5 separate regions of the Homo sapiens genome follow, and regions 1, 2, 3 and 5 are each linked to region 4. The links come from fine-mapping of genetic effects on gene expression. A gene starts in region 4. Each other region holds a variant in brackets. All regions are shown on one strand. Distances are from middle to middle. Region 1 overlaps CAMK4 (calcium/calmodulin dependent protein kinase IV). Region 2 has its middle 44 kb from the start of WDR36. Region 3 has its middle 54 kb from the start of CAMK4. Region 4 holds the start of WDR36 (WD repeat domain 36). Region 5 overlaps WDR36 (WD repeat domain 36).

Region 1 (5,128 bases), 270 kb after region 4:
GACCTGGATAGGTCAGGAAATCTACAGCTACAGATGACTAGGGACAGATCATGTGCTCACTGGCTCTATGGGAGAGGCCAATAAATACTGAACACACACTCAGAGACCAAACCAGTCCAGGGGTCACAAGCCCCTTGGCCACCATATCCTTTGAAACCGGACAGTCTTGGAAAATATCAGAGATGGAGAAATAATAGGGCATAAACATGGAATGTGTGCATACTACCCAATTAACTCTTACAAGCTTTTAAACTGTGAGCAGTTTTACTCAGAAGAAGAGACTTAACAGACATGCTGATGAGAGAGTGCTTTGAGGATGTGCACACCACTGTATGGAGAAAGATGCTGGGAAGGACTGAGCTGACACACTTTTGTTTATCTGGTCTTTCAGAGAAAAGTGAAGCTCTGGGTTCAATTCATGTTAAAATGCTACCTCAGAAAATCTAGACTTCTACATCTAGAAAGAATATATTGCTATGGGGCAACACTGACAAAGAAATTTTTTTTATCAAACCTCAAATCATTAAGATCTCTAGAATCTCTGTCTTTCCCATTCTAAACCAAGAGTATGATTATATTATTTTTTGGTTCAACATTAATTTCTTCTGTACTTTTCTGGTCATGAATAACTCTAGAAGAACCATGTGAGAGCCTCTCTTTCCACCAAGTTTTTAGCATTCATGAACAACATTAGCCAGGTTCTTTGAAAAAGGTCTGAATTGTCCTTGAAAGAATAGGCAGTGAGCTAAGCTTTCTTCTAAGAGCATCCAGGTTTTTATTTTTTCCATTGAACCCTAAGATGTAATTGATGAAGCTTAAAATGTTAATACTTTCAGGAGTATTATTTTTATTTTTATTATTTAACAGTATACAAAATCATAAGCTTTTTTGGCTTTGTAACTAATAGAAAATCACTTAGTTTTAAGGATCAAGGAAAAGATCAAAGGAATATCTCAGGGTCTCTGAGTGTATATAATATTGTGCCCCTTTAATCACTCAAATTAAAGTTTGGGAATTGTGCACATAAATCATTGTTGTTTGATTGAAATAATATACAATGAAAACCTATATTTCATTATTTTCATGGCTTCTTGATAATTTAAAAATCTTGGTCATATGAAATGGTCATAAAAATTACCAAAATTACTGTCTTTACCATATAAAAATTACTAAAAGGCACTAAGAAGAAAGGACGGAGTATATTACACCTCTGTCAGACTTGAATATATAAAGGACATGGTTGATACCCAGGTTTATGGTCAACTTAGATGTGACCCTGGTGGTTGACAGTGATTAGTAAACATATGAAATTGTCTTAAAACCTCCCTAAAGTTTAAACAGGACAGTGCAGCTCTTAGTCTTCAGAAAAGGTGAGAGAAGGCATTTATTTAAGTGAAAATAGGCATTAGTTTTCTTTTTGATTAACCTCAGGCAGGAAGATTATATTAGGATACAGTTTAGGATTCTGATGAAGTTGTCATTCACTTTTAGAAAATTTTTTAGAATAACAATAAAAATAAAATTGTGTTTCATGTTTAGTAGATACTTTCTCTGACTGGGGTGGAACATTTTCATAAATCCCTATATTTCTAAATTTAGTATGCTGCAATTGTAGTGCCTTCTCTGTTAAGAATTAAAAAATTGGAAACAGAAGATTAGAAATGCTCACTTTGATTTGAAAAGTCATTCTAGGAAAGGCACTGACATTTAGTGAACGTTTCACAGGGACTAGGAAATTTCACACATACTCTTATTCAATCCTTAAAACAATAATATTCCAGAATAACAATTATCCCCATTTTACACATGATGAAATTGAAGCAGTCCTCATATAGATTAAGGGACTTGATTAAAGACTCTAAATGATCAAGCCAGGATTCAAATTGAATTCTTTAAAAAATGTACAGACAAGGATGCTGATTATAGAATATATTAGTAATAAATCTTAAGGAATCATTCATGTCTAACATTAGGGCTAGGCATTGATGACATTGGGCCTTAGGAAGGTGTTTTACATTCTGCTTATGGATATTAGATATTCATAAAATTTTTATTATGTTTTTGTGTAAAAGATAACAAAATTTCAAATATTTTTATATTTGAAAATGTAAAAAGAAGTATACATACATATCTGAAAACAAATAAACCAAAATGCTAATGATTAGTTGTGTTACAATGGTGGATATATTCCTCACTCTTTTTATATTTTCTATATTTTTAAATGTGACTATGATACTTCTAGAAAAATATATAATATGTGTTGATTTCCTTCTATCCCTGACAACATGAATCTTAAAAAATAATTTGGGAGGCTTAACATTAATTCTCTCTTTGTTAATCAGTTTCTTTTTCATAAGACCATGCTGATGCTGGCACCTTCTTGGGAAATATGAGGAGTAAAGACCCAGCCAGGCTCTGTGCCCATGGAGGGCACAGAGGCAAGTCAAAATATCCACAGCTACATCCATAGAATTCTTTTCTGCTTACCAAGGATATCATAGTTGCTTCTTTGAGAATGGATAGTACATTCCAATTCTCACCATTATCATTTTCTAATCTCTATCATTTCATTCTCTTTTAATCACTCTGGTTGTGTTTGATACAAATGATGGAACACTCAAATTAAACGCAAGGTGTGCTGTTGGAAGGAAAAGTACGGGATTTCTATCTGGCAGCTATA[A/G]AAGCTCTATAGCCTGAAATGGGGGAGAAGAGTGAGCAGGAGTATCAGTACTTGCTGCAGTGGATTTAGAAGGTCAGTAACTTCACCTGTGCATTAATAATTTATATTTTTCCAAGTGTTCTTCACTTACCTTGAAAGAGAATCTAGAGGCTCTTTGAAACAGACATTCTCCACTCCACTGGTGTCAATAACATGAAAAAATGTCATGTAGACTTAAGTGGCAGGATGAGAACTGACCAACCAATTCTAATCTCATCTAACTGAAGCTTAATGTTAAACCAGAATTTTTTTTCTTTGAGCTGCCAGCATTTTGTATTCAATCACCAGCCTCCATACCTCATTCATTCATTTAACAAGTTATTAAATGCCAGGTATTGGTAAATAACGCCAAAGATAGCATATGTAGAAAACAGACAAGATCCTTTCTGTCATAGAACTCATGCTCCGATGGAAGAAATAGATGATGAATTAGTAACTAAATGATAACATAGCTTTTTGTGACTGTTATAAAAAATTGAATGGTATGACTCACCGTGTGTGTATGTGTGTATGTTGTATGTGTGTTAGTGTGTAACTACTTTTGATGGAGTGGCCAGGAAAGGCCTCTAGGTGACTCTCAATGAACCAAGTGAAAAAAGAGGCCTGATGGAAGAGGGAACAGCAAATGCAAAGGCCTTGAAGCTTGGTCTAGTTGAATGGCCTGCATATGAAGGACAGTGACATCAGACCAATAGGGTGAGGCCAAGCCATCCTGTTTTAAGGTCTATGGCAAAGAGTTTATACTTACTCTAAGCACAGTGGGACTCCAACAAAGGCATTTAAGCTGAGAGTAACATGATCTGATTTACATTTTAAAGATATCATTCTGGATGTTGTGTGTAGAAGGACTGAATATAAAGGGTAAGGATCAAAGCAGTGAGGCAAGTTAGGAAATATTATAACATTGCTGTTGCCTTTAAAGTAGGAGAGAAATCAGACCAGAATGGTGACATGAAATAATCCATTTTATTTCCTCTACTCCCAGGTGAAGAAGTGAAGAAAGAGTGCAGAGGCAACAATAGAGAGGTTTTCTGTGAAGGGAAGCAGAGATATGCTTTGGAAGTGGGAGGGGATGGTAAGGGACTGAGAGACCTTTTTAAAGATGAGAGTTATTAATCAGGATCATGCTCGTGTGTTCTAGATCCCAGGGAGATACAGATAAAAGAAGCAAGAGAAAAAAGTGCTGGGTAAAGACATGAAGATTCTTCTTCTGCTCTATCTATCAGGTTCTTTTCCTCTTCTCCCTGCCTCTGCTAAGCCCAACCTCTTTCTGTTGAGAGTCGGGCATCAGCCAAATTCTTTGTATTAACTTTGTTTAGCTTGTTATATCTCCCAGGAATATTTTAAGCCTATTTCATTCATTGCAAAATAAAAAGACTGTTTCCTGTGAAAAGAATTTCTGGTATCTGCAAGCACATAGGTTTGTATTTAGAATCTAAGAATGAAGGGAGAGAGGTAACTCCCTTTGGAGATGCTGCTCTGTTCTGAATCTACGTGTCTTACAAAGGCTTCAAGTTCTGAAATAGAAGTGTCTTTCTGGGTTAAGCTTCCCAGAGGCACTCTTGTTTTGCCTAGACTCTTATTTCAATCCTGGGCTTCCTCCTCTATTGGAAATCCCTTCTTTTTTCTTTTTGTTCTTCCCAATGTCTTAGAGTCTGCAGGGAATAGGAAGTGGCTAGTAACAGAGCTATAAAATATTGGGTTTTACAATGCTCAAAGACAAGCTTATCTGATGATTACAGCCTGTCTTCCCATACTGATCAGAACAAGGTTGGCTTCATGTTAGTCAGTGTTAAATGTAATATGGAGTATTGGTTTTCCTTACAATATCAGTCTCCTTCTTGTTCCAGCACACCATATCCAATGCTTGCTGCTGCCCTCACCTCTAAACCGTCACCCACCCTGTGCAGTGATCCTTTCCATTCTCTTCTTTGTTGAGCCTAAACTCACACTGAAAAATCTGGGAAAAGAGCATCTGAGACAGAGTACTATCAAGTGCCAAGTGAAAGGACCCAACAGTGGAGACTATCCTGGCTTCCTGGAAGATGAGCAGTGAGCCGGTGTAAAAGAAGAGGAAGAATACTAGGAGAGTTCAGCACAATGGACAGGGCCAAGGCATTATTAGTATATACTAGTGGACCATAGAATCTAAGCCAAGTAGGAGCTTTAAAGATAGGTAGTAGAAATCAGAGAGTGTAATGTTTGAAATCAAGATTTGTGATGTGGTTCAGTTGATGGTAACAAGAAGGCCTGAGATGTTGTCATGGAAATGAGTTGCTAAGGAAGAATCGAGGAAGTGGTAAAAGAACTGAGAGGCAAGAATGTTGAATGAACCATCCATGTGAAAGTTGAAGTTGTTAAGAATGATTATGGAGAATAATGGTTGAGATGGAGACATACATGCTAAAA
Region 2 (5,128 bases), 44 kb after region 4:
CAAGAAATGACTGTGACAGCTCACAGAGTTTCCATGACTGTGGGTGACACTGGGAGGGATCTGGAGGTTTCCACCTGCTCCCTGAGGGGAATGAGGGAGGCAGCTGGGAGTAGAATGCCAACAGGCCTGCCATAGAGCCCCAGTGGCAGAGTGTGGACACACCATCCTGGCCCAGGGCCCAGCTGGAAGATAGGCAGAGACTCAGGGCACAGGCTAAGTGGGACTGTGGTCCTGGTCGGGGGAGGTGAGAAGAGGGTCTGGCAACACAGAAGGCACTCACACATAGTGAACCTTCCTTTGTGAGGAAAGAAACAGACATGGTAGGGAATTTGAACATAAAATCTCACAAAATATTTATCCAAAAGAGACTAGGCTAATGTGAAAGAGACTGAGATACTTTTTAATTGGTAATTTTGTTCCCTACCCTAAATCTAGTAATATGAGGGCTCAAGATGAAATTTAATCATTTTGATATATAAAATATTCTTTAGGGATCTTTCTTTCAGTATCTGTGTACTATATGCTGAATTTCCCAATTCCAACCATGCTAATTTCCATTTCCAGCTGAATCTACTAAATGTCTCTGAAAAGGTACGTAAAATATTCAATACTTAGTTTTATCTCTGTGTTGTTAGTGATTTATTGACACTGCAGACATGTAGATAACAATAGTTTAATGTCCTCTGAAAACACAAAAATTCCATAAATCCTTGCAAACAATTTTTAGCAATATTGTTTATTGCTACCACAGCCAAGAATGGATATTTCAAAGCCGGGGGTTTTGTTCTGTTTTGTTTTGTTTTGTTTGGCTGCCCTTTTTTTCCCCCACTATCTCTGGCTAAATTCCAGTCTTTACTATTAATTTATTTTTTCTCATTTGAACTTTCCAAGTATGATGTCTGCCTCATAACTCTGGCCCTGTTTCCTCACTCCTGGCCACACTCTATTCTCTAGAGTAAATATGATGCAAGCCCATTGGGTGACTGAATGGTGGGTGAGAGTGAGTTATCGAAGCCTGGACTCACTTAACCATGTGGATTTAGTTTACAAGAAGCATCATATACCAAACAAAGGAGTCACATACCCGACAGCCTCCCCACCCAGCTCACAGCGCTGTGATCACTCCTCTTTCCTTCCTTCAATCATTGATTTATTCATTCTATCTTCAACAAATACTTAGCTCTGACCCTGTCTCAGATGCTGTTCTATGCTCTTGAGATACTTTAGAAAACAAAACATATAAAAATCCCGGTCCTATGAAGCTTGTATTTTAGCTCATTATTCTTTTATATTCTTTTGCTTAGCCTTTTGACTTGCTCTCTTTTAGAATCAAGATAAAGAAGAAGATGTTTCTAGGCCTTCACACTCTGCAAAGAGTGACTGCCAGGAGTTTCTCCCTTTATTTCAAAATGTGGCATACGTGGGTGTGTGTGTGTGTGTGCACGCACACGTGTGTGCACGTGTTTGTGTGTGTGTACAGGAATTCCCAAATAGCCTCCATATGAAAAAAAAAATGCCTGCATGCTGCTTCACTACCATTCTTGTTTTAACAAAGGGCTTGGTAACTTAGAAAAGCAGTGCATATGAAGAAGTAAAACAATTAAGGAGGAAAAAAAACTGGTTTTTTTTTTCCCTTGGAAGACTCCACCTCTCCATTCTCTGGCTGATAATAGATGGCCAGGCATAGGGAAGCAGAGACTAGGAATTAGCCTTGTAGTTTGTCAGACGTGGCTCCTGGAGCTGAGGGCCACCCCCCAGGGGCCTGGGTGCAGTTTTAGCTCTTGGCACACTGCGTGGAAAGGTGGAGGCAGGGGGCAGAGATGAGATGTTCATCTCTGTTGCTGTGGTGACAAGGAGGTGAAGTGAAGGTACTTCAAAAATGTAAGCTACAACACGTGAGGAAAAAGGTGCCTGTGGAACTGTGTGCTTCTCTCAACCTGTCCCATTCCCTCCTAAATAATCGTGTATGGGGTATGGCAAGATGGAGATCCCAACACACATGAGACAGGGTGCCTGACCCCCAGTCCAGGAGATGAGCCTTGCAGGAGGAAAGGCAGCACACATCTGCCTTCTCGGAGCCAGGGCAGGCTGCACAAAGAGGACAACTGCCATTGATCTTGAACAAAGGGGGTGGGAGGGGCATGGTATTACAGAGAGAGACAGGACAGCATTCAGAGATGAGGCCATGAGAAAGGCAATAGAAAGTCAGGGATGGCCAAAGTCATGCCAGCTGCTACCTCTGGGAATGTGTAGAGGTCAGTGGCCCTGGAACTGGGTACAAAGGAGACTTTATCTGCAATGTTTTGTGTAATTTTAAATTAAACAAAATAAGATAAAACATCAACTACTATTGATTCTAGGTGTTGATGTCTATATATTTTCATACTCTATATTTAGTTTAGTTTTTTTTAATTGTATTTCAATCTTTTTTTTTGTCTAGCTTTTCAAATAGAATGTATTTACACATCTCTAACCATTCATCCATCCATCCATTCATGCTACTTCGTAGATATATCTTGTGTGGCTGACCAGATCTTATTTCCTCTGGAAGGTGGCCTTTGGAAGCTGCAATTGTGTTTGCCACCCAAGTCACTGGACCTTTCCCAAAATTCCAGGCCACCACTTGACCTAACCACATTCATTTCGATGCAAGTCCCTGGCATTGGGTCTTTATGAGGCGCAGATGGTCTCCAGGTCAGCACTGAGCCCTGTCTCTTTCTCTCTGTGCCCAGCTGGCATGAATTGGAAGGCAGAGGAACCGAGGGAGTTCTGAGTCACCTAGCTTGACTGAGTCAGAGATTTCTCCAGGGAGTGGTGGAAAGGGTGGCTCTTGGCAGAAGAGATCCTCATCTCAATGGTGTGGTACTTGCCTGAGATTTCCCAGAAAGCACGAAGAACATCAGGGTGGAGAGTTTCACTCTCAGCGACAAATAGAAATAATCCACTTGATTCCACATGAACTAAGTGTTGAAGAAAAACATAATCTCACATTAGCTTATCTCTTTACCCTTTACCAGAACTCAAAGATGGAAATTACCATTCTCATCCTGCTGGGAAATGACA[A/G]TCATGCAGCAAATACACCATACTTTGTGTCACTTGAAACCAGTTTTATCTATTAAAAAAATACTAATCCTTAAAATATTATTCCTTTATGAAACACAAGGCCTTTTTTTTTCATAGCCTTTGTTGCAGCAAAACTCCTCAATAAATAGCACTGCCCAGAGACAGTTAGGGTAAACTTAGATCATGCAGGAAAGTGTCTGTCACTGTTTGCCTGCATCTCTAATGCCCTTGATGGGTTGGTTTCCTCCTTTTGTGCCAGTGTGGAAGTCTCATTCCCATTGTCTGCCATCAGCTAAATGTCCAAATTTGCTATAGAGCCCATCTCAATTTTGTGCACACAAGTGTTCCATAAATACCTAATTTAGTGGTTTTCTAAGAGTTGTCTGTCCAGTGTTCCCTAGGGGTCCTTCAAATATTTCCAGATGGTCAGCAAAATATGATTAAAAACTATTTTCATAAAACTGTGTTTACTCACAGTATTTCAAGTACAGGAAATATCAACAGATATAATTAATGTCACACTGAGATCCTCAATAATTTTTTAGAAAGTGAAGGGCTCCTTAGACAAAAAATGTTGAGAATCATTGCACCAATTGATTGGTTAGAGAAATACATAGCCTTACCAAGAGGTGCTAGCATATACTAATACCCAATGCTTATCTCTGAAAATGCCTTAAATCTGATGTTCCAAGACATGGAATATGAATCAGTACTGCTCTTCATCCTCTGAGAGAGCCAGTGAGGTCAGGGCTGGTCTCAGGTTTTAAAACTCCATTCAACCTCAGATTTAGTTGGATCAGTCACCTATTGAGTTCAATTAGGACTAGATGGCAAAGTTTAGAATAAAACAATTAGGTCATAAACAAAAATTTTTTAATTAACATAATGAAATGTATTACTCAGAACCAGTTTTAGTTATTTTCAGCAGAAACTACTATTTAAGTACATTAAGGGTTTTTCCAAGTCCCTTGAAGACTTCGTGGCTGAGAACTACGTCTAGAACATCCCAAGGTTCACATGGCTGATACTGGCCCTAGATACTGGAACCTCTGTCCCTGATGCCTCACTGAACAGAGTCCACACAGCATCTGCTTCTCCATGGCACTTACAACTCCTATTGTAATGTTAGTGCATCCATATTGTAATGCATATGTAGTGCATAACATATTGTAATGTTAGTGCATTAGAACAGTCTAGGGCTCAGGCCTATACCCAATGCTGAGAGACGAAGGTTTTGGGTTCTGAGTTCAGGAAGCAGAGACTGTAAATGGGGAATTCCCCAAGCATAGAATAGTGTTCACAAAGTGTTGGGAGTCAAAAGTAGGACAATCCTCCCCTTGGCTGCCCAGCTTCGCAACACACTGGGAAGTTTTCACACTTAAACTTCTAGTAGCAAAAACAGCAGCAGCTATAATAAAATACTGTCCTTCACAGAGGGAAAAACATCTTGCTCTGTGTTTTCCTAAAAGGAGAAACAATTCTCTATTAGTTAAGAATATTTTCTCAGCCAGTGCAATGTGGTGAAACCCCATCTCTACTAAAAATACAAAAAATTAGCTGGGCGTGGTGACGTGCACCCATAGTCCCAGTTACTAGGGAGGCTAAAGCAGAAGAATCGGGAGGCGGAGGTTGCAGTGAACTGAGGTAGAGCCACTGCACTCCAGCCTGGGCAAAAGAGTGAGACTCCATCTCAGAAAAAAAAAAAAAAGAATATTTTCAAGACCAAGTAACAACTTAGTAACCTTGATTTTCACAAGTAGGAATTAATTTTTCTCGTACATCAAGAAATCTAAAAGTAGTTTTTCACAATGTTGCAATTACTCAATGGTCCTGAGAAAGACACAGGCTTTTTTTCCCCTACTTCCTCTGTTTCATTTTTACAACAAGACTTTTTTTCCTTATGTGTGTCATTTTACAGTCTCAAGCTGGCTACCACAGCTCTAGACATCAGACCTCAGAAAACCTAAATCAGGAAATAAAAGAGGCATGGGAAAGATACCTCTGGCCACTATCTAAACACAAAATCAGGATTCTGTTAGAAAGAAAGGGAAAGCAGAGCTCGCTG
Region 3 (5,128 bases), 79 kb after region 4:
ATTGGCCAGGTCACTCAGTCAACTGAGTTAAGTTAGTTCCTTAGAGGTCCAAGAAGGCTTTATTTACGTATTTATATGTTGTATTTTTGTGCTTCTCTTGTATCCTGTTTCTCTTCATATGTGTAGCTTGGACTTCCTCACAAAATGGTGGTCTCATGGTAGCATGATTTCTTATATGGTAGCTGGTTTCCAAGGAGAACTATTCTCAGTAGCGAAGTCAGAAGGCAGGGATCTCTTAAGGCCCAGCCTTAGATGTTATATGGCATCACTTCTGCTTCAGGTCATCCAGCCAGATTCAAGGGTATGGGAAACAGATCTCATTTCCTAATGGCAGAGTGGGAGAAGTAACATTGCAAAAACGCATGTAGAATGAGAAATATTGTTAGGGCCATCTTGGAAAAGATAATCTACCACACTTGCCTTATGAGAACCTAAAGCCATTCTCATTATTTCTCTGATTTCTTGCTGCAGAGCACTTCATGGGAATGACTGAAGGCTTAATTGCAACTGCACAGCAATTCCATGTCTCCCTCTGCTTCCCCAGCTTCCTCTATGAGATTGTGGCTGAGACCACTCCCTAGTAAACTTCCTGCACACAATTCTCCACCTCAGATTCTGTCTCTTGGGAATTAACCTAAGAAAAATGTTTTCGTGTATTTTTCCCTAGTGAGAGAACTGCTCTTCTGTCAGAGACATCTCTTTATTCTCTAGGAAGATAAGCACTAGGGTAGGCATGCAAAGGAGTCATTTTTGAATATCCAAATTAGAGTTTTTCAATCTATATCAGGATAATAATATTGAAATCCAGTATTTGTTGTGTGAGAGGAATTGTAAATTTCAAATTTTCTTTGCACATTTTATTTTTATATATGAAGAGACTAGCTGGATGTGATTCCAGATTTTAGAATTAATTTAAAGAGATAATGTAAACAGAATGCAAGGAGGATTCCATTCACACAGAAAAGAAAGTCAGAAAACAGTGTGACTCCCTCCTGGACCAAGACCCTGGAATGTGGTTAGTATCCCCAGAAAAAAATGGGACAGTCCCAGAGATAAGTGGCTTACTCCTTGCTTTTTTGGAAGACTAGAAAACTTCAAACTGTTTTGTAGATAATTGATTAGTAGCGGCTAAGGGAGAGATTTAGGTAAAGAAACAGACAAAAGTACTGCTCTCTGAGTCTGTCTTTGCTCTCATGCACAATAAAAGGTATCTGCATTTCCTGCAATCTCCCATAGGGAGCTCAGTGTTAGGCAAGCAGCAAGGCTGATATTGCAAGGGAGTGAAGTTGTCATTATTTCTTTATACATCTGAATAGTGGAATATAGTCATTCTATCGACAGATGCAATCTCTGCCTCAAGGTTTTTACAGCCTACTTATTCATATTTATAGTTAATTTCAATGTTTTAGGGCAATAGCTAAGCTAGAGATAGCCACTGTGTGCTAGTGGATCACAGAGGAAGAACATTTGTACATCACTGGGGACCCTGGTTGAAGATGGTAACTAAGTTGAGTTCTGAAAGATGAGTAAAAATAGCTAGAGATGGGTTGATAGGTGCAGCAAATCACCATGGCACACGTTTACCTATATATCAAATCTGCACATCCTGCACATGTATCCCGGAACTTAAAATTAAATTAAATTAACACTTTAAAAAATAGCTAGAGGAAAGAGAGCAAACCAGGAGCAGTGGCTCATGCCTGTAATCCCAGCACTTTGGGAGGCCGTGGCAGGAGAATTGCTTGAACCCAGGAGTCCGAGTCCAGCCTGGGCAATACAGTGAGATTCCATCTCTAAAAACAGAAAGAGAAAGAGAGAGAAGACATTTAATACACACAGGACAACTAAACAAAGGCACATTGGGAACAATAAACTAAGAGCCCAAACTGAAGTGGTAGCTTTGGATTTAGAGAAAGAAATAGTTCAATGGGGTATAAATAACACAATTTAGTGATTTGTTGAATTTGGAGAGCAAGAGAGAAGGAGGGGTCTAGGACAACCCAAGGTTTGTATTATTAAGAGAGATGGTAAATTTGTGAG[A/AGTGTGTGTGTGTGTGT]GTGTGTGTGTGTGTGTGTGTGTGTGTGTTAGCATAAGACTAAACAGCTTTAAAAAGATAACTGACAATAATCCAGTAGCTTACCTGAGATAGGCCTTTAAATACAGCTTCTTACACCTTAGTTCAAGGTCAGCATTCCAGGTTGGTGCGTAGCTCTGCTTCTTATTCAGTAACCCAGGTTCCTAGGTTGCTCTTCCATTCCTTAAAGCCTTGTCATCATCTGCATTGAGGCTGGGTTCCATAGATTCCAGATGTTGCAAAGAGGAAAGAAAATGAAACATGGAAGAAACAGGTCTGGACATCTTAAGTCTCAGAGCTGGAAATGGCACACACATTTTTTCACATTCCTTTGAGGAGAAATGAACGTGGTCACAACTAATGTCAAAAAAGACTGGGAAATTCTGTATGTCTGGGAACGTCTATGTCAACTTGCAATTCCATTTCTATGAAGGAAGAAGATAATGGATTTTGGTGGACGGTGAGCAGTCTCTGCTACAGTTAAGTAAATGAAGGTGGCTAAAGAGTTATATTTAAGAGCCATTGAACTGTGAGAGTAGATGAGATCACAAGAGTGTGTGTGCAGATCAGAGAAGAGAGCAAAGAAGGAAGCAGCAACATGTAGAAGAGGAGCTCATGAAAGAGATCACAAAGGACTGTGCACAGATATAGTAGTATAACCTTATCTTTTTTGCTTAGACATTTGTCATTCTTTTTGCCTGCCCAGCATCTAAGCCTTCTTCCTATGTTTGAAGAATTCCTCATCTCATACATTTTGGTAGGAGGAGAAGCCATCTCCTAATATAGAGGTTGAAGATGCTACGTATTTCTCTCCCAGCCTTCCTTGTATTGAGAGTGTGAGCATGTGATGTAGCTCTCTAATCAAATGCATCTGTAAGTTGCAAGCTAGTAACGTAGAGCATGGGAAACTCGAGAAACCTCTGGCAGCAGCAGTGGTTGCAGTGAGATGGAGTTTTCAGGACAGCCATGGCAGTCATGCTATGGCTGTGTCCAGAATCCAGTGCTAGTGATATTGGCAGTACAAACTGAAGTACTTAGTGCATATGTCAGTAATGATGATATTGGTGTTCCAAGCAGACCACTTCTGCTGGATTATTTTAAGTATTGTTTCTGCCTGCATAGCTTGTGAGCACCTTCTCCATCTTCCTCTGAGATTCTTAGATCAATGCAAGATTATTACAATAAATTCTTTTTTTCTTAAATAACCAGAATGTCTTTCTCCTGCAATTAAGAACTATGGCAATACATCTCTTAAAATGCACACTTTTGGTTTTTCCCTTCTATTTTAAGGGTCTTGTGAATACGTTTCAAAATATTGTCTAAGAAGAAAAGCATCTGCTTTTGAGAAAACGTAGAAGATCTAAATTTCTCGAGAAAAATATGGATGTGCATAATTTAGGCACTGGGACATAGGTTGTGGTAATAATCTATGGTTCGTTACAAAAACCCCTACCATAATCAGGCGGGCAAACCTAGAAATCATTATGATTTAGAAAATGTTCTAGGTTTTGTTTCCAGCAATACAAGGCTGGTGGTTTTGTTAAATTGCACGAACACTGGTTTAGATCTCAAGAGAAACTGTACATGTACTTTTAGCAGTGATTAAGTAATGGGAAGTGCAGAAGAAATGTTAAGCTATCAGTTCTTAATAATGCAAATTTCAAACACGATTTTAAATTTGTTTTCCAGGTCAGGTGACTCTTTTGTAAATTAACCTATTCTCATGGGAATCAGTTACACATGTTATATTATATTTCTAATATAAACCAGAAATCTGACAGCACTATTTTGCATTAGGGTTATTTTAAGTGACTTATTCTTTATGCCCCTTACTCCTTACCTTCTCCTAACCCTCTTTTCTGCCTCCTTTTACCAAGACCTTCCTAAGTGAACATCAACTTCTCTATTCCACATTCCCATCACTGGTCCTAGGTTATCCAACCATCTTTTCATTTTTTACTTAAAGAAATAAAAACATTTTGTGGGTTTGAGTGTACATTAAAATTTGCTTATCAAGGCAGTCTTAGCTTTGAGGTCAGGGGATTTTACTAAGCTTTGTTTTTGAGCAAAAAGATGAGGTACAACTAGGAAGAACTGTACTCATTAAACAAAAAAAATACTAAAAAATTTTTAAAAACTTTAATTTTTAGCTAGTGCTACCCTGTGTCTGTGAATTTCAGGGCTGGAATTTAGCCAACCCCTACTTCTCTTATATGGAAATCAGAATATTATTTTTCGGCTATAATGCTTAAGAGTGGAACTGGGCTGATGCCCCAGGGTGCTGAATCGGTATTTATTGTTGATTTAGGCTGCCTCCTTTCCTAGCAATGAGGTTGGGGTGGGGCTTCAGTCCACAGAACAACAGCCCTGAGAGAGTTTGAACCTGTCACACACACAGCTTTTGAAGCCCCACCCCCAAGCCACACCCCCATTTATTTTGTCCTCTAAACCTTGGAATGAGGTCAGAACATGTGGCAAACTTCAGAGCTGATACATAGAACTATGTTGTTTTGATTCTCTCCAGTCCACACCTCAGTTTTTTTCTTTACCTAGGCATTTCTGTTATCTTGAGAATTTACTGAAAAAATGGTTTCGATTCTTAACTGTCCCCCAAACTCCATTGATTTCCTAGTTATTTCTAATGTTTATTTTTATTACCTGAAGACACTTGGAAAGGGTTTTTAAAAGCAGAAATAGGCTCCCAGCAATTTGTTTCCACCCTGTTAAAGACCTTATTAAGTTTATCTCATTAATTTGCTGGCAAAATCAGAGCACAGACTCTGTAAAACTTATCAACACACCATACCAAAAAAAAACAAAAAACAAAAACCACCTAATAATAATGTGAGTTTCTTTAAAGAGCCATCCACAAGTAGATAAACTAGGGGAATAAGTTAATACCAACAGGGACTTAAGCCTTCTTCCTACCTCGGTGCTAGAATCTTGAGATAAGACTGATGGTCTGTTTTTTGTTCTTGAGTGGGTCAATGCTGAAGACATTGAAGAGTCACAATAATTCAGTATTGTTGGAATATCACGCAAGATAATGTTCTTAATAAAAGGAGAAATA
Region 4 (5,128 bases):
TTCCCTTCTCACTTCATTTCATTCATTTCATCTTCCATTGCTGATACCCTTTCTTCCTGTTGATGGCATCGGCTCCTGAGGCTTCTGCATTCTTCACGTAGTTCTCAAGCCTTGGTTTTCAGCTCCATCAGCTCCTTTAAGCACTTCTCTGTATTGGTTATTCTAGTTATACATTCTTCTAAATTTTTTTCAAAGTTTTCAACTTCTTTGCCTTTGGTTTGAATGTCCTCCCGTAGCTCATAGTAATTTGATCGTCTGAAGCCTTCTTCTCTCAGCTCATCAAAGTCATTCTCCGTCCAGCTTTGTTCAGTTGCTGGTGAGAAGCTGCGTTCCTTTGGAGGAAGAGAGGCACTCTGCTTTTTAGAGTTTCCAGTTTTTCTGTTCTGTTTTTTCCCCATCTTTGTGGTTTTATCTACTTTTGGTCTTTGATGATGGTGATGTACAGATGGGTTTTTGGTGTGGATGTCCTTTCTGTTTGTTAGTTTTCCTTCTAACAGACAGGACCCTCAGCTGCAGGTCTGTTGGAGTACCCTGCAGTGTGAGGTGTCAGTGTGCCCTGCTGGGGGTGCCTCCCAGTTAGGCTGCTCAGGGGTCAGGGGTCAGGGACCCACTTGAGGAGGCAGTCTGCCCGTTCTCAGATCTCCAGCTGCGTACTAGGAGAACCACTGCTCTCTTCAAAACTGTCAGACAGGGACATTTAAGTCTGCAGAGGTTACTGCTGTCTTTTTGTTTGTCTGTGCCCTGCTGCCATAGGTGGAGCCTACAGAGGCAGGCAGGCCTCCTTGAGCTGTGGTGGACTCCACCCAGTTCCAGCTTCCAGCTGCTTTGTTTACCTAAGCAAGCCTGGGCAATGGTGGGCGCCCCTCCCCCAGCCTTGCTGCCGCCTTGCAGTTTGATCTCAGACTGCTGTGCTAGCAATCAGCAAGACTCCGTGGGCGTAGGACCCTCCGAGCCAGGTGCGGGATATAATCTCGTGGTGTGCCGTTTTTTAAGCCCGTCGGAAAAGCGCAGTATTGGGGTGGGAGTGACCCAATTTTCCAGATGCCGTCCATCACCCCTTTCTTTGATTAGGAAAGGGAACTCCCTGACCCCTTGTGCTTCCCAAGTGAGGCAATGCCTCGCCCTGCTTCGGCTCGCGCACGGTGCGCGCACCCACTAACCTGCGCCTACTGTCTGGCACTCCCTACTGAGATGAACCCGGTACCTCAGATGGAAATGCAGAAATCACCCGTCTTCTGCGTCGCTCACGCTGGGAGCTGTAGACCGGAGCTGTTCCTATTCGGCCATCTTGGCTCCTCCCCTCTCCCCTCTTTTTTAATTTAAAGAACATTTACAAATAATTAGCAACTTGTTCACTTTTAAGTCATACCAAAAACATGGCTGAAAATGTGCACTGCTATTGAGAAATCCGGGGTACAAATGAAAATACAAGTAAGTACAACATGTCAAGGACTAAATAACAAGCTCTCATTCTGTTAGCATCTGCCCCTTAATGATCTTAACATCCAAAGTGTTTGAGGCTTTGTGCCAAGAACTATAAAATAAATCAAGATTTTTTTTGTTCAAGAATGTATGAGTCAGGTATTCAAATTAGCTAACAAGTGACTTTTGTTTCATAATAATTACATTTTAGAACTGGAAGGAACCCGAGAGAGTACACTGATCTGTGTAGAGACAGACCCTCTTTATCTCTTTCAAGTACATTTACATTAGTAAATATACCCTTTTTATCCCTCTCAAGTACTAGTATAGTTACGTTAGTCACTCGACCCAAACCTTAATAGGCTGCCAAAACGTTTTCATAAACGAAATGAAATGGAAATAAAACAGTAAGAGAAGAGGTTATTCCATATGTTGAACTTTGGTCCTGGGCTCTAAGCTCACCACTGTTTTAGTTAATGTTCACATGCTCAGAGATTGTTCCCCAAACCTACATCTTGGTAAGGCAGCTGGCTCCTGAGGAGTGAGGCGTCTTGACACCCACTTCACTGGAATCAGTCTCCTTCAGCATCCTAAGGCACTCAGCTCTAATGAACTGCCCGGACTCCCGTTTGCATTATGATAAGCTCCTCTTTAGAACCTCTACTGTCTGCTTTTGACAGCCGACCTCAAGGAATACTGACTTAATCCAGGAATCCCAATAACATTTAATATTTATCTTCCTTTTCTGGGAGGAATCTACACTTATCCAAGTTGCCCAAGTGAGCAGTTCCCTCCCCACAAGTAATTAGTTCTACTCCCCAGAGGGTCTGTGAGTGAATCCCTCTGTCAGTTTTGAAATGTCCCATTATAGTTTTCATCTGTAAATATGTCAATATGTATCCAAAAGATGAGGATCTTTAAAAACGTAATCATAATGCTACTATCATATGTAAAAATGAAACATAATTCCTTAATATCATCAGATATCCAGTGTTTAAATTTTTCCAGTCTCATGTTTTTGTACATTTTTAAATAATCACATGTTTAAATCGTTTCCATCTCCAAGGCGTCGACCTCCCCTCCATTCTCCTGGGCGTCGCGCTTCCCTCTTTGTTTCCCGCCCTTGCGGTTCTGTCGGAACCTAACGAGCTTCCTTCCACCGCAAAAGAGCTGGAGAACAATGCTAGGCAACGTGCTGGAGACCTTGGCCCTCGGAACCCAAGTCACGCCTCCCATGTGAGCTCTGGAGGGAGAACTTTATGTGTTGCACTGAGGGCAGTCTCCGGAAACGCGATTCGCAGCGGGCGCCGGAAGCGGTGTTGTGTCTGCAGCTCTGGCAGAGGACTGTTCCACTAGACACGCTGAAGGGACTGGGTACGTGTTTTCCTTCAGGACCAGAGCTGAGAGGAGCTGGGATCGCGGCGGCAATGGAACGGGCCTCAGAAAGGCGCACGGCCAGCGCGCTTTTTGCGGGGTTCCGGGCCTTGGGACTTTTCAGCAACGACATTCCACACGTGGTGCGGTTCAGCGCGCTCAAGCGCCGGTTCTATGTAACAACCTGCGTGGGCAAGAGTTTCCACACCTATGACGTGAGTGACTTCTTTTGTTAGCTTCCCAGGAAAACCACCCTCCTTGGCCTCTAACTCTGTCCTGGAGCAGTCCGGTTCTCCCTTCCCATTTACCACGGGCTTCCCTTCTTTAACCCCTCCCTGTCCTATTAATATTTCGCCATCCGGTCACGTCCACGTGCTGATTTGGCACTTGCAGTCCTCCTGGGGCGTGTTTCAGAGGCAGCCTGGCCAAGGGGAAACTGCTAGAGAACATCTCAGTTGTATGGCAGTAATATTTGTTCAGTGAATATTTATTGACCTTCCCTTGAAGGTGGAAACATAATTAAGACAAACCTCTACCTCTTGCATTCTTAATGAGAGAGAAAAACATGCACGCTATTACGTTATTGGTGACACGAGCTGAGTTAGAAATTCACTCTAGGTAGAATACATTGGGAGAACCGGAGATGGTGAGATTAATTACCGTTAGGGAAAATATCTAATAGCAATCAGTTATTTTCAACTAACGCAAAGTGTCTGGCACTGTCACTCTAAGCCTTGCAGCCGTTTCTTTGCAACATAGGTGTCATTATACCGTAGCACCTTTATATAATCTATTAAAGTAAATTTCAGATAAATCACTTGTTAGTGATGATTTTTTCTCCTATAACAGTTCATCGATCATTGTAATAGTGTCTCTTGTTTACTTGTTTCTTTTGTCTTCTCCGAAAGAATGTAACCTCTGTGAGAACAGAAACCTTGATGAGGAGGATGATAATAGTCAGTGTTAATTAAGTACTTTCTTTTCTGGAAAACAGGTAGAGTTGTCTCTCTTGGAGGATTGTGAATATCAAATGGCTTATTAGCAAAAAGAGCTGGGAGGTAGGAACTAGTTGAGTTAGTGGAAAAGGAAAGTGAGGGCAGAGCTGAGGTGAAGAGCAATTGGGTTTCTCAGAGTCTGAGCTGGTAATGGAGACAGGGTGGGTTAGAACCATATTAATCATGTGAAAGTATTTAGTGTTACCATTCTCTGCACTTGTTCCTTGCTTGCTAACTTTTGCTTTTGCTGGTTAATGTTTTCTTCCTTGAAATGTAATTTTTCTGAGTTTATTACTGAAATAACTCTTGAAATCTTGTCTTTGGTACAGTGTCTTTCCTGACACTGCATTACACACAGACACAGGTGTTTTTCCCTATATTCTACTTCCAAAGAAACCCTGTGGTGAGGAGAGTAACATATTTGTACATTTTATAAAGTTAACAATTTACTTACTGTGTGTTGACATTTAGTCATAATAAAGATGGCTTTTAAGTTCTCCTCTAGTTCTAACACTGATGATACATTCGTAACATCATGGCATGTAAATGTTCTTTACCCAGACTGTACACTGCTCAGATTAACCAATGCATTGGGCTGTGACCTCTAAAACTGAAAATACTTGGGAGTAAAAAGAAAAAAAAAAGGAGCTAATGAACCTAAGTCACTAATTGGGTCTACAAGTGCTCTATCCCATGACTATGGCTATATATGCTGTCCCCAGTCAGACTTCCTACAGTCCTACAGATTAGTTTCTTCTACAGGGGAAACTAGACAAGTTGTGAATAGGTGGTGGTAGTGATGGTAGTAGCTATCATGTATTGAGCAGTTACTATATGACTGGCCCCATTCTGTTTTACACAAATTTACTCATTGAATCCTCATAACAATCCCATAAAGTAAATAAATACCTGTTTTACAGATGAAGAATTTGAGGCACAGGGAGCTTATTTTTCCAGGGTCATACAGCTGGATCAGTAGCCATGATTGGGGTCAGCAAATTACAGTCTGTAAGCCAGTCTAGCCCACTGTTTGTTTTTGTATGACCCAGGAGTTACGAATGATTTTGACATGTTTAAATGTTTGTGGGGGCAGGCTGGGGGTAGGGAGAAGGATATTTCATGACATGAAAACTATGTGAAAATCAAATTTCAGTATCTATAGATAAAAGTTTAATATACCCATGCACATTATTTATCTATTACGTATGGCTGTTTTCATGCTACGGTGGCAGAAGTGAGTAGTTGGCAACAGAGACCACATGCATTGCCTGCAAAGCCTAAAATATTTAATATTTGGCCCATTATAGAAAACATTTGCCTACCCCTTCCATCACCAC
Region 5 (5,128 bases), 35 kb after region 4:
CTAACTTACTTTTTGCTATTGGAGATGGACACAGTTATTGACTATATTTATAATAAGGAGATCCTTCTTGTTGTGAATTAAATGTAAAAGTTTTGTTTGTCGTTTTTGTAGCAAGTAATTTGCAAGTCTTTTGTTTTTATTTATAATTTGTAATTCAGCGGACTGCTTAGGTGATTTCATATATTCCTAAATTATTTTATTAAAAAGGAAATGTTTTAATCTGTCTGTTGTGTTCATATATTTAAATTTCGAAGGCTACAGTCTGTAGCTAATAGTGATTAGCCATAAGAACTGTAATCATTTAAAAAACTGTAGTCACTCTCCTAATAATTTTAACTTGTCCTCTTGTTTTGATTCAAATGCTTTTGTTTTCATACCGAGATTACTTGAGTCCACATTAGCAAAAGTCAGAGAATGATACTGATGAGCCCTTGTAAATGACTTGTTATGTTTATGGGGAGACAAAGAAATAAAAACACTATTGTTTACTATATACTGAAGGATCTAAAAGTGATTAGACTTTTGTCATTGGTGATACTCTTTTTCAGAAAGCTAAAGCATAGTCATTGCAGTTCTCAAATGACTCATAAAAATAGCTGTAAGTGTACTGAGTGTGTTTTCCTAGGGTGCATATGAAACAATTCTTCTAGGGAAAAGAAGTAGGTTTGGGCTGGGTAAGAATAAGGGATGGGGTCTTCCCCCTCTGATTTTATATATTCTGTACTGTTAGTAATATAGTTCCTAATGATTATGTACTTTTATAACTTTATAACAATAGAAAAGAAAAATTATTTTACCTCATCAGATTCCCAATGCTAACCACTATTAATACTTTTGTATGTATCGTTATAGGCTTCTTAATTAGGATTTACTCTGAGAGAAGATATATGAGCATTTTAAAATTCTAACGTGCCTGTTGCAAGGCATTAGATTTTCTTTATTAACAGGAAAAAGGTTTAAATTACAGAAAAAAAATGTGTTTTGAGTACTTTCTCTTATATTGGTGTCATCGTTTGTACTGATTTTCAATTATTTTGGGTTTCATTCTACTACATAATATGAAAAAATTAACCCACAGGAAGAATTTCCTGTACCATTTAAATATATCCTATTTGGGGTATAAAAGGAAAACTGTAATTTTCTAAGTTAAATGATTATAATCAAGTCATAACTGGATTAAAATTTAATGCAGATGACACTGCTCTCAACCTTCTGAAAGAATCAGGCCCATCAGGAATTGAAACAGAGCTGCGAAGCTTGTCTCCTGATTGTGGTGGGTCCATAGAAGTTATGCAGAGCTTCTTGAAAATGATTGGGATGATGCTGGACAGAAAGCGTGATTTTGAGTTAGCCCAGGCATACCTTGCATTGTTTCTAAAGGTAAGTCTAATGTAAGACAGTACTGCCCAGCTTGTCTTCTTCTGGGGCAGTGCTATCTAACAGAACTTTCTGCAAAGATGGGTATGCTGTATATCCATCCTTTCCAGTATCATAGCCACTTGCCACATGTAGCTATTGAGTTCTTGAAATGTAAATAGTGTGATCAAGAAACTGGATTTTTAATTTTATAGAATTTTAATTAATTTAAATTTAAATAACCGCATGTGGCTAGTGACTACCACATTGGACAGCTAGACAGTGCAGCTTGGGAGTCTTGTTTTGTTTTTTTACTCAACTGCACAATAATTTTGACTTTACCCCCTGACATTTTTATGCTATCTGCTTGATCCAATGTGCTGAACCATTAACTTTTCTTTTTTTAGTGGTTAGTTACATTTTGGAAGTTTTTTGTGATTATGAATAGAAAGTTGGGTTTGTTTGTTTTTTTTTCTACTACTGAAATCAAAATGTTCACTTCTATCATTATTAAAGGAGTTTTGATCATTTGACAATAAGACTGTTACTTTTATGATTAATATAGTGGTGAACTCATGTTTTGAGGGTCTACTTTAGTGGTATAATGTGTTGAAGGAGGTAGATGATGCCGATTTTTGGTGATAATAGATTTGATTCTTTATCCCATTTATACCTAAAATGAGTTCACTTGATCTGATTATTTAAAAGTATCAGGACTGTCCTTAGGTGGAGAGGAGTGATGACCACTTTAATTCTACCAAGGAAGTCACAGTATCATAAAGGACCTTATAATAAAAAAAGTTTGATAGAGGAGGGGAAAA[T/G]GGGAGATAGTAATAAACCAGCGCTTAAGAAAACAAATATTCACCTAGTGTCTTTTGTGGTTCCTTGGTAGAAAAATTGAATCCAGATTAGGTAAAATTTTAATTTTCTTAAATGTTCAATCATCATATTTTTCTTTGCAGTTACACCTTAAAATGCTTCCTTCAGAGCCAGTACTCCTAGAAGAAATAACAAATTTGTCATCCCAGGTGGAAGAAAACTGGACCCATTTGCAATCACTCTTCAATCAAAGCATGTGTATTTTAAATTATCTCAAAAGTGCTTTGTTGTAAAAATAAATTTGTGACTAAACAAAGACTTTCATATTAAATGGGTTCAATTGAACTCATTTCTTATTTTCCAAGTGTCAATGTGAAAAGAAAATAAATGCTAGCACTACTGACTAGTCAGTATATCTCCACTTTAAATGCTAAATACTTTCTTGAAATAAAATCGCACCTCCCGGCCAGGCATGATGGATAATGCCTGTAATTCCAGCACTTTCAGAGGCCAAAGCGGGAGGATTGCTTGAAGCCAGGAATTTGAGCCCAGCCTGGGCAACATAGCAAGCAAGATCCCATCTCTACAAAAAGTTAAAAAAATAAATTACACCTGCCTTTTGTTTTGAAGACTTAAAGAATCTGCTCAAATGATTTATTTTCTGAGTCTCTTCACATTAACTTTTATATGATTTTTAAAAAATTATTACCTGCTTATATTTTTTGAGTATCTGTTTCATATAAAGAGATGCTGCATGTTCACTGTGAAGTATTGCTGAATTAAATTGAAAATGTCAGATAAAACTGATACATGATGTAGTTATAAAAATGCTGTTATGAAGAAAAAAGGAATGCTTTTTTCCTCGGTGGCCTTTGATAAAAATATGAATGATTGACTCTCAGAGTTGGAGGATAAACTAATCATCTTCTAGCACAGCCCTGTTGTGTTGCAGGAGAGGAATCAGGCTAAAGTCTGCTGGTATTTCAGTGACAGATTAAAACTTTCTAACAGTGGCCTAGTGCTTTCTCCATTGTAATGTACTGAAAGGAAGTTGTTCATGGATCAGAAATGTGGGAGGCCCTTCCTTGCCCAAGGCAAGTCGCTGTAGATGGTTAAACTGATACCAAGGATAGGTAAGGGAAATTCCAAATTCCATTGGAAGATGGCCTTTTACTGACACTGCAGACATGTAGATAACAATAGTTTAATGTCCTCTGAAAAGGTAAAAATTCCATAAATCCTTGCAAACAATTTTTAGCAATATTGTTTATTGCTACCACAGCCAAGAATGGGTATTTCAAAGCCAGGGTTTTTTTTATTTTGTTTTGTTTTGTTTTTTTTTTTTTTTTTTTGGCTACACTTTTTTGGGGGGGACCTTTTAATTTGGGAAGAAAATGCTGAGTATACTTTTCTTTCACAACCATTGCAAACCCAGGTAGCCCTGGAGTTTTCTTTTTTTCTCATCATCATTGTTTTGTTTTTTTTATGGTTCAAGACTTTTGCAATACATGAATTAAAAATAAGCAGTTCTTTAAAGCATAGCGCTCTAAAAACTATTCTTAGTTTATACCCTCAAAAGTTGGGTCTTTCATGAAACACAGTGGTTTGAATATGAACACCAGTAGCATTCTCGTTCGTTGTTAGGGTAAGAGAGTTTTGTAGAATGATCTCCAAAAGAAGCAGTCCTCAAAAGGCATTTACCAGTGATATCTTTTAATATTCATGTTTTTATTTAATGATGTAAGATAGAATTAATAAACTACTAAGGAAATAAGCCAATGTGGTTATTGTACTCAATTTCGTTTTTCTTTTAGAAATGTGTATTGACTTATTAAAGCCACTGACAGAAATGTTAATCATGACTTAAGTTCTAATTTAAAAAACTATTTTCCTCTTTCCTAAATACTATATTCTAAATTGGAATATGGCAAAATCCCAATATATAATTCTATACCTAGTAAAGATTGTAAATAACTAAAACAAAATGATAAGAGCTGTGAACTGAAATTGTATTGCTTACAGAAATCATGAACCGAATTTTCTTCTCTTTTTAAAGTGAGCATAAAGACTTAAGTGTATTGTTACCAGAGATATATTTAGATAGAATACATCATTTTGGCAGGTAATCTTCTAGAACCTTTCATGTACTGTTTCCATCAAGGGAGGGAAAGAAATAGAAAATATAATTTTATCTATATTTTCCTTAAAATATATCAATCTGTGCACACTCTTTCAGTTTTTTAATTACTCATGTAATATATGACTACATTTTGCTTGTGTGCTTTTTGAAAACCATCTTCAGTCCCAATATCCTCTGTAGAAGTAATAGTTTTAACTCTCCTAGATCTTCTTTTAGAGTGTTTTTATGAGTGTTTAATGTAGGAATGTGTATATATTATCTACAGCCACAGGAAATGTATAGTTACGATTTTTACATACGTGTATGTATATTATTGTACAACTTGCTATTTCTACTTGGGAGTTTTTTATTTTGGTACATTCACATTTACCTAATCTCTTGTGCACTGTCCAACAGTACTTTGCCTATAATAGACACTTAAGGAAGTTTTCCTTCTTTTTATTCCTTTATAATTACAAACAATGCTGAAAGGAACATCATCCTACATGAGCCCTTTTTGTACATATAAGGCTCTCTCTGTGGTATATGCTTAGGATTTGAATTTCAGGCCAGAGTATAACCATTTTTAATTTGAAGAGATACTTCCATTTGGGTTCCAGAATGGCTGTATCAAGTTACAGTTCCCCTGAGCAAGATATGAGCATCTGCTTCCCCATGTAATTAATGACACTTGCTATTGGATTTTTGTAATTTAATTACTCTGAAAAAATTATTTTGGTTTTAAATCAGAAATTTCTCACTAGTGAAGATGGACATATTTTTGTATGTTTATTTTAGAACATATAAACATTTGTTAATTTTCTTTTTCCTCTC

The links.
Region 1: its variant is fine-mapped to the expression of WDR36 in whole blood (INTERVAL, PIP 0.99).
Region 2: its variant is fine-mapped to the expression of WDR36 in prefrontal cortex (BrainSeq, PIP 0.95).
Region 3: its variant is fine-mapped to the expression of WDR36 in neutrophils (BLUEPRINT, PIP 0.95).
Region 5: its variant is fine-mapped to the expression of WDR36 in whole blood (TOPMed, PIP 0.98).

The regions. Positions count from the first base shown.
Region 1 is chr5:111,360,374-111,365,501 of GRCh38, forward strand. All of the region lies in intron 2 of CAMK4 (calcium/calmodulin dependent protein kinase IV), which reads left to right. Among named protein-coding and RNA genes, the nearest start is that of CAMK4, 140 kb to the left of the region's middle. The variant A/G (reference allele first, on the strand shown) is at 2,681.
Region 2 is chr5:111,133,371-111,138,498 of GRCh38, forward strand. No RefSeq gene overlaps it. Among named protein-coding and RNA genes, the nearest start is that of WDR36, 44 kb to the left of the region's middle. The variant A/G (reference allele first, on the strand shown) is at 3,064.
Region 3 is chr5:111,168,247-111,173,374 of GRCh38, forward strand. No RefSeq gene overlaps it. Among named protein-coding and RNA genes, the nearest start is that of CAMK4, 54 kb to the right of the region's middle. The variant A/AGTGTGTGTGTGTGTGT (reference allele first, on the strand shown) is at 2,041.
Region 4 is chr5:111,089,608-111,094,735 of GRCh38, forward strand. It overlaps WDR36 (WD repeat domain 36), which reads left to right and starts at 2,741. Exons shown (of 23, transcript NM_139281.3): 1 at 2,741-3,011. The coding sequence starts at 2,850. RefSeq lists an enhancer at 2,591-3,030.
Region 5 is chr5:111,124,416-111,129,543 of GRCh38, forward strand. WDR36 (WD repeat domain 36) reads left to right here. Exons shown (of 23, transcript NM_139281.3): 22 at 1,193-1,380; 23 at 2,319-5,128. The coding sequence ends at 2,468. Among named protein-coding and RNA genes, the nearest start is that of WDR36, 35 kb to the left of the region's middle. The variant T/G (reference allele first, on the strand shown) is at 2,178.